Linked DNA regions of Homo sapiens: all the other regions are linked to region 1. A link means that fine-mapping ties the variant in region 1 to the plasma level of a protein whose gene starts in the linked region. Region 1 holds a variant in brackets. A gene starts in each other region. All regions are shown on their reverse strands. Distances are from middle to middle.

What was found. PIP is the chance, under the fine-mapping model, that this variant and not a neighbour inherited with it causes the effect. Protein levels are from antibody-based Olink assays in UK Biobank. Linkage for the fine-mapping came from a reference panel and not from the study's own genotypes, which makes the PIPs less certain.
Region 2: it holds the start of GALNT5, and the variant in region 1 is fine-mapped to the plasma level of the GALNT5 protein (UK Biobank, PIP 0.95).
Region 3: it holds the start of GCHFR, and the variant in region 1 is fine-mapped to the plasma level of the GCHFR protein (UK Biobank, PIP above 0.99).

Annotation. Positions count from the first base shown.
Region 1 is chr2:60,487,831-60,493,054 of GRCh38, reverse strand. The region is part of intron 2 of BCL11A (BCL11 transcription factor A); the gene reads left to right. Among named protein-coding and RNA genes, the nearest start is that of BCL11A, 63 kb to the left of the region's middle. The variant A/C (reference allele first, on the strand shown) is at 2,147.
Region 2 is chr2:157,254,727-157,259,950 of GRCh38, reverse strand. GALNT5 (polypeptide N-acetylgalactosaminyltransferase 5) reads right to left here and starts at 2,246. Exons shown (of 10, transcript NM_014568.3): 1 at 415-2,246. The coding sequence starts at 1,868.
Region 3 is chr15:40,761,961-40,767,184 of GRCh38, reverse strand. GCHFR (GTP cyclohydrolase I feedback regulator) reads right to left here and starts at 3,117. Exons shown (of 3, transcript NM_005258.3): 1 at 2,969-3,117; 2 at 1,264-1,358. The coding sequence starts at 3,004. DNAJC17 (DnaJ heat shock protein family (Hsp40) member C17) reads left to right here. Exons shown (of 11, transcript NM_018163.3): 11 at 1-2,024. RefSeq lists enhancers at 1,005-1,794, 2,572-3,437 and a silencer at 3,104-3,553.

The DNA of each region.
Region 1 (5,224 bases):
GAATTCTCAACACTGTGGTGGTAGGTGGGGGTTCAGTGGTTAGAAGGAAGGGGTCAGAGGGTTAGGGAAGGGGATTGACAGCAAAGGGGCATGAGGGGGCTTTCTAGACTGGTGGACGTGTTCTGTATCTTGATTTTGGTGGAGGCCACACAGCTGTATACAACTGGCAAATTGAATCCAACTGTACACTTAAAATGAATGACTTTTGTTGTATGTAAAGTATACCTTAATAAAGCTAAAGCGAAACAAAACAAAACACCCACCACTGGAGTGGAACCAAGTCTGTCTGTAACCTTTAACTGTTTGGGTCTCCTCAAGACTCTAGCCGTCTTTCAGGGTAGCACCAAAGTACATTTCAGGGAAATGAGAATGCCCTTTGTATTCTGAGATTTTATAGAAGTTGGTAATGACAGAGAGAGAGAGAGAGAGAGAGAGAGAGGGAGGCCCACTGAGATGGGGTTATCCACCATAAGCAGAGCATTTGGGTCTGAGAAGCGCATGAGTACTGGTGAGTATGTGAGGAAGGAGAGAGCAAGGGGAGGAAATCTGTTTTCCTAGAATTCCAGCAGGCTTCAAAAAGTAAAAAGGGGAGGGAGTACCCAACTAAGTTTTTTTCTTCCCTAGAAATACATTTATTCTAAACATTAGCCCAATTAGTTGTCTTTTGTTTGTTTGTTTGTTTGTTTTTGAGACAGGGTCTCGCTGTGTTGCCTAGGCTAGAGTGTAGTGGCATGTTCATAGCTCACTGCAGCCTTGATCTCCTAGGCTCAAGCCATCCTGTCACCTCAGCCTCCTGAGTAGCTGGGACGACAGGTGCATGCCACCATGCCTGGCTAATTTTGTAGAGATGGAGTTTCTCCCTGTTGCCCAGGCTGGTCTTGAACTCCTGGGCTCCAGTGATCCTCCTGCCTTGACCTCCCAAAGTGCTGGGATTACAGGCGAGAGCCACTGTGCCTGTCACCAACTCAGTCTTATTCATCAGTATGTCTTCTCCTTAAGCGGAGATGCTAACAATGTAGCATCTCCTGTGCTGAATTCCTGTAAAGTGAGGGTTTTTGTTTTTCCTACATCCATCTTCCTCTCCAGATTCCCTCTCAATTTCCAAGGTATTTAGCGTAAATGCAATATCTGAACTTCATTTATTTGGCAGATTTGTGTGGACTGCCTTTTCTGAACCTATTTGGGTGCTAAGGACTGTATGGATTTGGGTTCTTAACATGGAAAACGTCTGTGCCTGCGTAGTGTTGGGTCCTACCTGGCCACTTGGCTCTCAACACGGAGTGATGATGCCTAGGGTGTTTTGACGTGGGCAGTCAGCCCAGCCTGGAGAACTGAGGGGAGCATTTCTTTCTTTTTTTTTTTTTTCTTTTTTCTTTTTTTGGTGAGACGGAGATTTACTCTTGTTGCCCGGGCTGGAATGCAATGGCGCGATCTCGGCTCACTGCATCTTCTGCCTCCCAGGTTCAAGCGATCTCCTGCCTCAGCCTCCCGAGTAGCTGAGATTACAGGCATGTATTACCATGCCCGGCTAATTTTGTATTTTTAGTAGAGACGGGGTTTCACTGTGTTGTCCAAACTGATCTTGAACTCCTGACCTCAGGTGATCCTCCTGCCCCGGCCTCCCAAAGTGCTGGGATTACAGGTGTGAGCCACAGCGCCTGGCCGGGAGCATTTCAAATGATAGTTAGGACTTCCTTTTACTGTACTTAATAGCTGAAGGGGGCCAAAAGTGTCCATGTTTGCTGCCCTCTGGCATCAAAATGAGGTCCTTTTTAGTAGTGCTGCATTTAAAACAGCATTAAGAATACGTTTTTAGAACTTAGCTTTTTGCATTGAGGATGCGCAGGTGGCTGAGACTAACTTCTTTGCAGATGACCATGGTTGAAAGTCAGCTATAGAGTTGCACAACCACGTAGTTGGGCTTCACATATAGAAGATGTTGTCATTTTTTGGTAACTCTGTCAGACTTTACCAACCTGGCGCACAGTCTGGTTGGCACATAAACTTCACATTTGCTCTTCTCCAGGGTGTGGGGTGGCTGTTTAAAGAGGGTGGATATTCATGCTAATCTTTGTGTAGCATAACATGTTACTGCAACTTGCTTTTTTTTTTTTATCTGAAAGTTCAAGTAGATATCAGAAGGGAA[A/C]TGTTTGTGGGTGCTAAGAAGGTTAAAATTACCATTTTGAACAGAAATGATATTTGGAAAAATAACTTCCCTTTTAGGAAGGTAAATCAGTCATTTATATGCTATTTGTTGAATTCCTAGAATATATGAATATCATGTCACATGCTGTGCTGGTACTTTCAAATATAATAGAAGCAAGTAGGAGAAAGAGTCCCTGTATTGAAGAAACTCATTGGGAACACATGAAATTAATTAGAGGCATAGAGGGTTAACCAGCAATGTAAGGCCTAGATATGAGTCAGGGAGTGGTGCATGGGATGAGTGTTCTATGAGGTTGGAGAAGGATGAGATTGATTCTTCTTGCTAAGGTGACTAGGTAGACCTTCATTGAGGCCTTGAAGTATGAGCAGGATTCCAGGAGGTAAGAGAAGAAGAAGAAAAGCCAGGAAGGAAATGAGAACGGAAGGGATTTTTACTTGGGCAGAATATTTTCCTTGATGGGTACGGGGAACTAAGACTGGAATAGAAAATTGGAGTTGGATTGTGGAGCTCTGGAATGATGGCTTAAGGAGTTGGACCATATCCTATAGATCACAGAGGGCTGCTGAAATACTCTGATCAGAAGACAAAGGCAGCATGCTAGGGGATGTTAAGTGAGGACTCTGCAAAGGGGGTGGATGAGTTGTTGAAATTCTCTGTTATACCCTTCATGCCGAGTTCTCCCCTGTTGACTTATATGTTCTAGAGGATGGAGTTGGTTGACCGTAGGGTTTCCTTTCACTAGCAGAATGGAACCAGATATTGTAGGAGCCTAGCACATGGGTCTGTTACTAATATAGAGGACTGTTTAAATCTTGGAAAGCTTTCCTTTTGCCTTTGCCCCCATTGCAGATGGGGAGTGGGCAGGAATGACGTTCAGAATCAAGGGCCCATCAGGGTCTGTATTGGTCCCTTGTCCCTCTCCTCCAGTCCATCCATGTTGGGATACTCAGGGCATGGATGGTGTTTCATGATAGCATTTATCATTTTGATGATATGTGACAAAATAAGGCAGGCATCAAAATTCATATCCCTGTGATCTCTCTTTAATAGTGTCCTCCTGCTTTGGGGGTTATTAAGCTAGCCTGAACTTGAGTAAACATTTTTGGATGGGGTGAGAGGGGGGCTGATAAAAGTGGTTAGTAAATAGACAGTTGGAAAGGAGAACGGCCCGGGGGCTCAGGAGATGAGCCAGGGAACAAGGAAAGCAGAGATGCTAGTGACCCAGAGTGTCCTAGAGGGGAAAGAACCTCTGTTAGAATTTCAAATGTCAGACTTTCTTTTCAGCTTCCTTCAGGTGCTTCCTCTTCTACTCAGAATTTTCTTTTGAGATAGGTGCTGGTCAAACAAGCTTTTGTTTGTGGCTGGTCACTTGGCACACAGTGTGGCTGTTTGTCATCCTGGATGATGAGGCAGCTATTTTAATGGCACGCAGGGCCGCCGTGTGTTTACTGCCAAGAAATAAGGGCTTCTAGGAGACTTGGTGGCTTTAGGAACAAACTTCCAGCGGCAGAAATTAGTTAGGAAGCAGAGTAGCACTGGGTTCCAAATGCCTCTATTGTATGAATTTGGATATGTTGTGGGCAAAATGACATAAAAGAAATGGAATGAGAAATAGTGTAAGTGACTGACAAGGACCCCATTGGCATGTGGGCTAGTGTTGACTGGCTCTCACAGTGTGAATTTAGTTAGGTGTTTCCACTTTATTTTCCCCAAACTCTAAAGCAACAGTTTAATTGGGGTCTAAGGTACCCTTTAGAAACATTTTGACCACCTATTATTTAGGACACACAGCATTTTTTTTCTTTGAAGATAAATTTGTTTTGGGTATGGCTGGGTGTGGTAGCTTATGCCTATAATCCCAGCACTTTGGGAGGCTGAGGTGGGTGGATCACCTAAGGTCGGGAGTTTGAGACCAGCCTGACCAACATGGAGAAACCCCGTCTCTACCAAAAATACAGAAATTAGCCGCGTGTGGTGGCGCATGCCTATAATCCCAGCTACTTGGGAGGCTGAGGCAGGAGAATCGCTTGAACCCGGGAGGCGGAGATTGCGGTGAGCCGAGATTGCGCCATTGCACTCCAGCCCGGGCAACAAGAGCGAAACTCCACCTCAGAAACAAAAAACAAACAAACAAACAAACAAACAAACAAAATCGTTTTGGGTAGCAGTGGCTTTAGGCTGTTTTTGGATCTTTGGCTATTGATACTGATTTGAAATTTTTTGTTATTATTTTCATGTTAAGCAAAACTAGAAAGTTTTACCGAATTCCCCTGCAGTACAGTAAGTATTTTCTTTCATTGGGGGAAGCAAACTATTTACAGCCATAACAGGGTTTCCAGTGAATTGTATAAGTAGCACTGAGTTCTGTGTCAGCAAAAAATGAAACAAAAACTGATCATAGATGACATTACCTAAATGACAGTACCTACGTGTGTCCTTTCTTTCACATTTGCTGTAATCCTGTTATGGCATTGTCCTATTATCTCAAGTACTGTCATCTTTAAATGCTGTCAAATTGTAACTGGATTGCCAAGGACAGAGGAGAGGAACCAGGGAGGACACAATGGCAATTCCCACTGCACCAAAGAGACGGTCTTCTTCCCCCTCTCACAGTCTGAATTCTTGGAGACATTGTTCAGTTAAAATCATGACTCAGGTATCTTTTACAGGCTTTGATGAAATAGTCAGATTCACTCCTCATGTTCCTAGAAGGAAAGGAAGAAACACTCTTTGAACAGCCCGTGAGACAAACTCTTCCAGGATAATTTAAATGTTTCTACATAATGAGAATAAATTGTAAGTGTTACTGTGTTTTTAAAACCCAGGTCAAAAGTAATAGCACAGAGAGGGATCTATAAGCATTTAATATCTAATTGTTCATATATTGCTTCCCCAGGTTTAGATGAGGGCTCCATTCTAGAGTTGGGAAAACCAAGTCAGTAAACCTTTAGTGGCAGATGTTATCAGGGAGCTGGAGTTGGAGTACTTGCATTTTGTGTTTGTGCCAGCTGTCCATGTTCCTCTTCATATATTTAGACCAAATTCTTATCCAGATTT
Region 2 (5,224 bases), 97 Mb before region 1:
TTCTTTCCCAAATATATTCCTGACAAACTTGCTAATAATGAAAAGTTCCAAAATTGGGAATTCACTTCATTGTCACTATTCTAATGGAATTACACTTTAAGCTCTACCATTTATATACACGTTATTATGAACTGAGTTCATCTAATCATTTTAATAGGTTTTCAACAGAGGGAAGAAAATTGAACATGAGCTAATGGTAGGGACCAAAGTCTCAGAGAACAAGAACTCTGCAACTGCTAATAAGAGAATTTTTGTCTCTGTAGCTGGTGAAATATTTGAATGATATCCAATGATTAATGTTTCTTTAATTCTCTAGGTGACCAAAAATCACACAGAATTATCTAGCAATAAATCCTCTTTACATAACAGCCAAAGCACTTGGGGTTGAGGAAAGAGAAGAGAAATAGGTCTTACCCAGCAGGTCTGGTGTCTTCAATGGCTCTATCCACTGGGATCAAATCGCTAAGGTAGACATTGAAGTTTCCTTCTTTCCATCTTCTTTCTGCCTCCTTCTCCTTTCCATGGGGGACAACTACAGGACGCCCAAACTGCCCTGGAGCTTTGGGGTCCCTTGGAGAAAGTGTCACATCAATTCTTAACACCTGGTGCGTTCCACTGTCTTCAGGTAAAAGGGCTTTTATATGACTCTGGTTGTATTCTGTAGAGGGGGCTTTGGCAGTTATGTTGATTTTTGCTGGCTCTAGCCCTCCAGTTAAAGCATGGTTAGTTTGGGACAGTGGCACTCTATGTGGAGCAAGTGAAGAGGAAGACATCTCACTTCTATTCCTGGAAATGTGTTTACTTTGGCTTTTACCCAATACTTTAGGAAATATTGTTTTGGTTTTAGAATTAGAGACCTCTTTGGGGTCTGCCTTTTGCTCTTCCTCTTTGGTTATAATCACAAGATGGCTTTCAGAGAAATTGAGTTTCTTCCCATGAGCCCCTCTAGCTCCATCATCCTTTGACAAACTTCCCAAAGGTGTCTCATTAATAGATTGCTTCCTTAAGCGATTTGAATTGACAGTGAACTTAGGAAAAGGAAGACTCGTATTGGCTTTGTGTTTATTTGCATTGACTTCTTTGCTCTGAGTCTTAGTTTTGTTTAAGGCCATGGCTTCCCCAGACTTCGGCACTGCTGTGCTGGCAGGGTGTGCCCTCTCGTTTGCTACTGCCTGTGATCGCTGCTTTGGTCTATCAGTACTAAGACTGATGGTCACATTCAAGTCCCTTTCAGCTGCTAGTTTTGATGTGTCACTGCTGGGACTATGACTCTTCCGGGGCTCCTGTTTTAAACTGACACGTCCCATGTGTACTGATATTTTGACTACCTGAGTTCCTTTTGCTGCTATGAATGAGGTCTTTGGAGCCCCCTGAGCTGTCGTTTGCTTTGGTGTCCCCTGGTGAGAGGAGGCTTCAGGTTTGGTGCCTCTCCCGTCTGTCTTCTGCTTGTTAGGAGTCACAGGGAGGGTCTGCAGATGTGCAGGATGCCACAACGGCACAACCTTGCCCCTTCCCAGGGCATTCTGCATTTTTCTTTCCCTCTGGGTTTGGTCCAAGTCCACCTCAACCTTGAGCACACTCTCCTCAGTTTTTCTAACATTCTCTTTGCCCCATGCCCCTTTCCCATGTCCCCTTAGGGGAGGTTTCATCTCTTTTATGCTGCTGTAAAAAATTTTTCCTTGGTCTGGCTGAACTCTGAATCCTATCCGCTCCCTCCTCACAATGTCTTCCTTGATGACCCGAGTGTTGATCTCACTGAATGAGAGGCGGAGAGCTGCCATGTCAAAGAGGAGCCAGATGACAGAAGCTACAAAGATAAATGCCAAGACTCGCCCACTTCCTCGGAAAAACTTTCGGATCCTGTTCATGGTACAAAGCTTTCCCTAGCAGCCTGCCCTCCCTTAGCCTGCTTACCTTGAGTGGAGAGGAAGCTGAAGTAGCAGCAGCAGCAGCAGCAGCAGCAGAGTTGCCAGAAAGTGACCCCCTCCCCTGAACACAGCAGGAAGCAGCAGTCCAAGGGGAAAGCTCAGTTCCTACCGCTTGTCAGTCTCTGCCTGCGTGGCATTTCATAGCAGAGCATCTGTGCCTGCTTGGCTGGCCCTGGCTAAGTTCTGATAAACACTGGCCTTAGGTCACTCCAGGAGCAGTTGATTCCAGCCACCGAACAGTTCAACATATCACTTGTCTTGTCTCCGGGAGCCCATGTCCACCTTCCTACAAGCCCAAGAAAAGGTGGGGGCCAGATTGAGACTGCCGTTTCTCTCCTCCCCGTTCTCCGTCTGCACGCTGTAACTCAACACCACTTCTCATAAGGAAAACATTTCATGCCATTACCCAGAAAACTTCATTCAGCTCTCACCTTCTGTGTTATGTGAGAGCATGTGTGTTTAAACGGCAATTAAAGAGGAAAAAAAGCTATCTAACTTGGAGGGCATGTGTTCCTGGTTTGTGACCCCACCTACCCTACTCCTGCTCATTAACCCTGTTGTAGCCAGGTGCCAATGCTCTGCCTGAGGAATTTATCACTGAAGTTAACATTTCAGCTTTAAGACATAACAGCTTAAAGAAGGGGCCTGGTATATCCTCACTTCCAGAGATGTATATGTTTAATTATTTAGATCATTCATTCAAGGGGTTTCAATGTATTTCTTTGTAAGCCAACTATTTTTTTTTCACTAATCCATCTGTTTTTATTATTACATTTGATTACAAATAAACTTAATTTGTCATACTGCTATAAAAGTTTCTAAACACTTTGTTATGGTCTGAATGTTTATGTCCACCCAAAATTCATATGTTGAAACCTAATCATAAATGTGATAGTATTAGGAGGTAGGGCTTTTGAAGGTGATTTCATTATAAGGATAGAGCCCTCATGAATGGGATCAGCACCCTTAAAAAAGAGGCCCTATTGCCTTGCCATTCCACAAAGTGAAGACATAATGAGAAGGTGCCATCTATGAACCAGGAAATGGGCCTTCACCAGTCAACGAATCTGCTGGTGCCTTGATTTCTGACTTCTCAGTCTCTAGAACTGTGAGAAATAAGTTTCTGTTGTTTATGAGTCACTTAGTCTATGTTATTCTTCTATAGTAGCCTGAACAGATTAAGATACACTTACTCTCAGTTTCAGTACTTATCTCGTCTTAAACCAGCAAGCAACAGTTTCAGGACCACACCAGGACTTGGACCAGATTTTGAGTGATGCTGGTTGACTGGTAGGGTAGCAGTTCCGCCACAGGCTTTTCATTAGAACCACTTGAAACAAGATCCCCAAAACTCTGGTCAATTGATGAGAGAGGAGGTGGAGATGACATTTGGGCTGATATTGTATTAAATATATATATATATATATATATATATATATATATATATATATATTTTTTTTTTTTTTTTTTTTTTTACAAAGCTTCCCAGGTCTTTCAAATGTGCAGCTAAAGTTGAGAAACACTGGTCTAGAAAAAAAGTCTCAATTTTTTGTTTGTTTGTTTTTGGTTTTTGAACATTGCCTATGAGACATTTAATTTTAGGTGTCTACTTGACTGGGCTAAGGAACACCCAGAGAACCAGTAAAGCATTATTTTTAGGTATATCTGTGAGGGTGTTTCCAGAAGAGATTGGCATTTGACTCAGTGCACTGAGTGGGGAGGAGATGCCCTCACCCAATGTGGGCAGGCACCACTAATTGGTTGAGGGCCCAGATAGAAAAAAAGGCAGAGGAAAGGTGGATTCTGTCTCTGTTAGTGAGCTGGGACATCTTTCTTCTTCTGCCTTTGGACTAGAACTTTAGATTCTCTGGCTTTGGCCTCTGGGGCTTGTACCAGTCTGCCCCCACAACCTCCACATCCCTCACTAGGTTCTCAGGCTTTTGACCTCAGACTGAGAGTGATGTTATTGGCTTCCCTGGTTCTCAGGCCTTTGGACTCAGAATGTGCCATGTTACTGGCTTTCCTGGTTCTCCAGCTTGCAGGTGGCCTGGACTGAGGTTTCTCAGTCTCCATAACCACATGAGCCAATTCCTGTAATAAACTGCAACTCACTTATCTACCTCTATGAATCCTATTGGTTCTGTTTCTCTGAAAAATCCTGGCCAATACAGTCTACAACTTGTGTGACATTCCTTCCCTGTCTAAAGTACAGTCTAATAAAATCTATGCATTCCCATAACAACTAAATCAGAATACACATTTTGACATTGCCAGTTGTAAAGATTGTCCATAGAGTTTGAGAAGCACTTCTCGGGACCACTGTCCTTCTCTCTGAGGAACTCTGAGTGATTTGTGGACAACACTGCTGTTCATTACTCTAGTGTGGGGAGGGTCTAGCTTCCATGCTTTGAGGTAAACTTATGTTCCCAATGACTTGGGAGGGGAAGGAGAGATTCCAAATTCATATATATATCTCAAGCACTTTGCTAAGTTCTTTCCATTGACTATCTCACTCAATCCTCACAAGAATCTAATGTGAAGGAGTAAATTACAATATGTATTTTGTAGTCAGCAAATGAAACCTTAGAGAGGTAAAGCAACTTCTGGTAGAGATTGGAGGGGTTGGGTCTTGAATACACGACTGTAGTCCGTGTGCTTCAATATCACACAATACTGCTCTCTAGCTGTATGATCTTGCAGGCTAGTTAATTTTATGTGGTTACTGAGCAATAAAAAAAAATTCTGCTTTGCAGATTAATGTGAGAATATTTAAAAATGGTTAAAGTTATTGTTATATTGAAGGTACTCTTTAAATGTTAGCCATTCATATTGTTGCTAATACTTTGCTGTAATAGGAGTGTCGGATGCATGTGGGAGGCAATGTACCAGCTCTTCCCAAAAAAACAAGTAGAAAACTAGTGACTAACATGATTCTGGCAATGGGGAAGAAACAAATCTGAGTATTTTATTTTATTCTTGCCATTCTTATTTCCTCTAATTATAGATTTAACAAGACCATTGTTCACTGAGAACTCCCTACATGCCCAAAACATGAAGTAGGTGACATTGTCTCTGCCCCTAACAACCTTAAAACTCCCCTCAGTAGAACGCCACCAGTATAATAATAATAATAATAAAAAAAGAACGCCACCAGCAAAAAACATAGCACACATCTTTAGCATCCACATTCGAAAATAAAGTGAGAATTTTTTTTAGCATCATGGATAAATGGTTTGCATTACAATATTGTTTTAAACATGAAAATAGAATACTTTAAAATTATTTTACTCTGCATG
Region 3 (5,224 bases), not on the chromosome of region 1:
GCAAGCTCCTGGTACAAAGCTAGTGTCTGCAGCAGGCAGCCTGGCCACTCTTGTAGTGACTCACACTTGCTGGCTGCTTGCTGGGCGCTGGGGTAAGTGCACGCCCCCTGCCTCCTCCCCTTCTAGGTACTTCACGAGCTATCTCATTTATTCTTCCCAACAAGCTAGTGAAGGTGCCACTGTTGTGGCCATTGATAGATGAGAAAACAGAGGGGTTAATCAGGTTCCCCAGCGTCCCAGATGGTAGACCATGTTAGTCTGACCACAGCCCTGCTGCCGCCCTCCCTGGGCTTGCTCCCCACCCAGGCTTCCAGGTAGGAGGAGGCTGAGGCTGCAGTGAGCCATGATTGCACCACCGCACTCCAGCCTGGGCGACAGAGACTCCATTTCAAAAAAAAATAAGCCTCCAGGCCCCTCACTGCCCTGGCTGTCCTGCAGTTCTGTAGCAACAAGGCTGAGCCCCAGTAGCTCCTGGCTCTGTGCGCCACTCCCTAGCATGGAGAGTGCTGGTAGTCCTTCTGTCAGGTTTAATTGATGCTGAAAGACCATGAAGCAGACAAAGGGCTCAAGCCCCAAGCTGGGCATGGAGAGGCAAGTGCCTCATGGCAAAGGGAGGGGGCTGGCTTCTGTCCCCGAGCCTTGACCCAGGGGCTGGGATCAGCCCTCCTCTTTCCCCGATTTGAACTGGCACTCACTCTGACAACTCTTTTCAGAGAGCCTGTGTAGCTTGGGTTCTCCCTGCCTCCAGGGGTGAGAGGAGGAATGGAAGCAGTAGTCACAGTTTAGACATGGAGGCATTAGGAAGAATGCCAAGGGAAATGGCTAGGTCCCCAGGCAGCAGCCACCCTGGAGGTAGGACGCAGGCTCCCTGCTCCCTGCTTCTAGGGCTTAGCTTTGCGACTCATGCAGATCCTCACGACAAAAACCTTTCTCTCTGTGCCTGTCTGTCCTTGATGGGGTCCAGCTTAGGAGAGGGCAGGGCAAGGAACAGTCTGCTAGTGGAGTCCTAGACCCAGGGAACGGACTCTGTTTCTGCGGTTCCAGTAAGGATGTGGAAAGCTTTCAGAGCAAGCCTCGTGGGGGAGAGGGGGGATGTTGGAGAGGCTACAGATGGGACCAACTCCTCCGGAGAACAGAGCCCCAGGATGCAGGCAGGGGGCTCTGATGCTGGGCCCTGTCCCTGGGCTTGGAGGTTGTATAAAGGGAGCAGAGGCAGGTCTAGGGGCTGGCAGGGAGAGGATACTGAGGGAGGCTGCTACTTACAAGTTGTTTCCCAAGGCTCTTCTCTTTGAAGCCCCCAGATGCTGCATCAGCTCTGGATCCGACTGTTCATCGCCCACCATAGTGGGGCCCACCTCCTGCAAGGTAAGCCACAGTGGCTGCTTGGCTGGCTGCCAGGAGGAGGTGGAAGGTCTTGCCTGTCCTTCCTCCCCTGCCTGCTAGCCCTGAGTAAGGTTCAGGTAAAGGCTACAGAGAGTAGCAAGGATTCTTAGGGGCTGAGCACAAGCTGTGAAGGGGTGGAGCCCATCAATGATCAGGAGGAGCAATGTAGGCGCCCTCCCTAGTGCCTTAAAGCTCAGCTTTAGCCAGGCAAAGTATCACGAGCCTATAGTTCCAGCTACTGAGGCTGAGGTGGGAGGATCGCTTGAGGTGGGAGGAGTTTGAGGCTGCAGTGAGCCATGATTGCACCACTGCACTCCAGCCTGGGTGACAGAGTGAGACTCCATTTCAAAAAAACAAAACAAAATAAACATGTAAATGAAAGAAGCCAGACTCAGATCACATTACCACAGAAAGGTAATTAGTGGTTATCTAGGGCTGAGGGACTTGGGGGAAATCAAGAGTGTCTGCCAGTGGGTACAGGGTTTCCTTTTGGGGTATTAGAAATGTTCTAAAACTGATTATGGTGATGGTTGCACAACTCTGAGTACACTAAAGAAACAACAACACTGAATTGTACACTTTAAATCAAAGAATTTATGGTATGCACATTACATATCAATAAAGCCATATCTTTTAAGAAATAAGAATCACTTTGGGGGGCCATTTCCAAGTATGGGTTCCCAAGCCCCAGACAGAGTTTTAGGAGGTCTGGGAAGGGACCCAGGAATCCACATTTTGGCAGCTGAGCAGATGGCTGCTTCACAAACCGCTGCCCAGGGCTCTGCAAGAGCTCTCTGTTGCGTGGTGAACCCACCAAGGGGGTTGTGTACCCTTTGCTGGTTCACCCCAGCACTGGGCAGTGAGCAAGGGCAGAGAGCACCTTGCTGCCCGTCATGTCTTTCTGAAGCTAAAAGGGGACTCCTGAGGGGCAATCAGAACCTTTTTACAGATAAGGAAACTGCGCCCAGAGAAAGGAACGTGACTTCTAACTCATGGTGTTCCCACCTCTAACTGCACAGCCCCTTCTCGCCTTCCTTTTTTCCAAGCAGGGTGTTCTTTCTTTTCTTCCTTCCCTAAAGCTTCAGGGATAGCCCTTCCTGGAAGTGCCTAAGGGTGCAGCTAGTTGCTGTTTATGGGTCAAGGACTTGGCACCGGGGTTTTAGCGCCTTGGCAGGTCCTTATCTTTTCCAAACCTCTTTCTCTCAGGTTATTCGCCCTTTTTTCCCCTGCGGAGCGGCTCTGTGCAGGGCACTAGGTGCTGCGCGTGAGGCCAGGGCTCCCTGGGTCTCTCCCGCCGACAGGTAGGACAGGAGCCGGAAGCGCCCGGAGGTCGCCCTGTTGCCGGGACGCACGTACCCGGGCCCCTTCGCGGCAATAAAGGCTTCAGGCCGGCCAGAGCTCGCTGAGTCCCGGAAGCCGAGCTGAGCCCGCTTCTCCACTCCCTCTCCCCGGCCAAGGGGGCGTGTCTGGGCGGGTTCCCGGTCCAGTCCCCGGTGGGTGCAGCCCAGGAGGGAGGCATGAAGGTGCAGTCGCAGCCCCCTAGGGCCTGGTCCCGGCTCCAAGTCGCCAGGCGGCCGGTACTCACCATGCGGATCTGGGTGCTGATGAGCAGGTAGGGCATGGTGCACGCGTCCCGGCCTGGCTCCCACCGGGGGCTCTAGGCTGGACGCCGACTCCAGCCCTTCTCGCGTCGGGACTGCGACGCGCAGCTGGGAGTCCCGTTACTCCGGCTCTGGCCACAGGCGGCGTCAATCCCGGGGCACCTTGCCCGTGACCGCCGTGGCCGCCAATCAGGAGCGGCTGCCGTGACGCGCCCTGCAGTCGGCGGTTCGGGGCCCGCCCCCGCCCTCCCGGCGGCGGACTTGGACCCCGGGGCCCACCTGAGGCTTCCGCCGAGTGATCCAGTTGCGGGAAGGTGGAGTGCGGGGAGGAGGGGGCGGTCCCACGACCTGGAAGGACACTATCCTGAAGCTCCAGCGTCCTCCAGGACGCTTAGTGCTGTTTTCTTTGCAGCCTGTGATCTTACTGCGTCCCCGCGCGCGTGTTGCCCCCGCGCCCGCTTCTTGAACACTTCAGGCCAGGTTCCAAAGTCCCCTGCCAGGCAGAGCCCAGAGCAAACGGCGTCCTCACGGAGGCCTCTCCAGGCCCCAGCCCACCCCTCTCAGAGACGCCTCGACAGCTTCAACGGGGCCCCACTTCCCCTCGCCAAGACATGCGCTCCAGAGATTCCTTAAGCGCTGAGGAGGCCGGGGCACGAGGCTCGGAGCTAGCCCTGAAGGCGACAACTAAAATACCACCCAGGGCGCACTGTGCATTCCCCCTCCCAGACTCTAATTCCAGCACAGAGGCGGATCCTTGCATTTCTGTGGACCCGCAGGAAAGTCTGTAAAGGAACCGCGCGCTTGGCTGGGTGCCAGGTCTGGAGTGACTGAATGGATGGAACCTGGCCTTCCCTCCCCTGAGCTTCCCGCGCAGCTGGACAGACGCGGCGCACGCGCAGGAGGTCACTGGGCAACACCTGGGGCAAATGAAACAACTTCCCCCGCACCAGCCACCAATGAGCGGCTGCGAGTTCCCAACCGTGTGTCCACGCCCCTCATCCGCAGTTATCAAAATCTGACAACTCATCCTTCTTTATCTGCCTTGTTGTGATTGGTTTTCTTTTTTCTTTTCTTTTTTTTTTTTTTTTTTGGACATGGAGTTTCGCTCTTATTGTCCAGGCCGGAGCGCAATGGCGCGATCTCCGCTCACCGCAATCTCCGCCTCCCAGGTTCAAGCGATTATCCTGCCTCAGCCTCCTGAGTAGCTGGGATTACAGGCCTGCGCCACGACGCCCGGCTAATTTTGTATTTTTAGTAGAGACGGCGTTTCTCCATTTTGGTCAGGCTGGTGGCGAACTCCCGACCTCAGGTGATCCACCCGCCTTGGCCTCCCAAAGAGCTGGGATTACAGGCGTGAGCCACCGCATCCGGCCTGTGATTGGTTTTCTAGAAAATAAAGCAAAACAAAAACAGCCTGTAGGTAGCCTTCCCTCCCATGGGAGGGTAATAATCTTCACTTTTTAAGAGGGGCCTTTATAGGGGATGCTGCCGTTCCAACACTTTGACAGACGTGGAGAGAGCTATAAGGGAAGCAGGAAGTTGTAATCCTAAACGTTCCTTAACTGGTCTAATTTATTATTCTGTAGTTCCTACCCCTGCCCTCTTACCCACTGACCTAACAAGTTAGCCAGAGAGATAAAACACATTCATGCTTAACAAAGGATGTGTTAAAACTGACGAAAGGGCCGGGCGCGGTGGCTCACGCTGCTAATCCCAGAACTTTGGGAGGCCGAGGCGGGCGGATCACGAGGTCAGGAAATCGAGACCATCCTGGCTTAACACAGTGAAACCCCGTCTCTACTAAAAGTACAAAAAATTAGCCGGGCGTGGTGGGGGCCGCCTGTAGTTCCAGCTACTCGGGAGGCTGAGGCAGGAGAATGGCGTGAACCTGGGAGGCGGAGCTTGCAGTGAGCCGAGATTGGTTGGGCCACTGCACTCCAGCCTGGGGCAGAGCAATACTTCGTCTCAAAAAAAAAAAAAAAAAAAAAAACTAACAAAAGATTGATGCCCAGGAGCTCCTACAACTCAGTGAGAAAAAGATGAACAATGGAAAAAACAGGGGTAACTGACTTGAATAGGCCCTTCACAAAAGAGGAAATAGAAATGACCAATAAACATATAACATGATGCCTAGTATATCATTAGAAATACAGGAAATACAAATTAAAGTCAATTTTACTTTTTTTCATTTTAACCAAATTTATTTAAACCCCAAGACTTTGTAGACACAGTGGCTCACG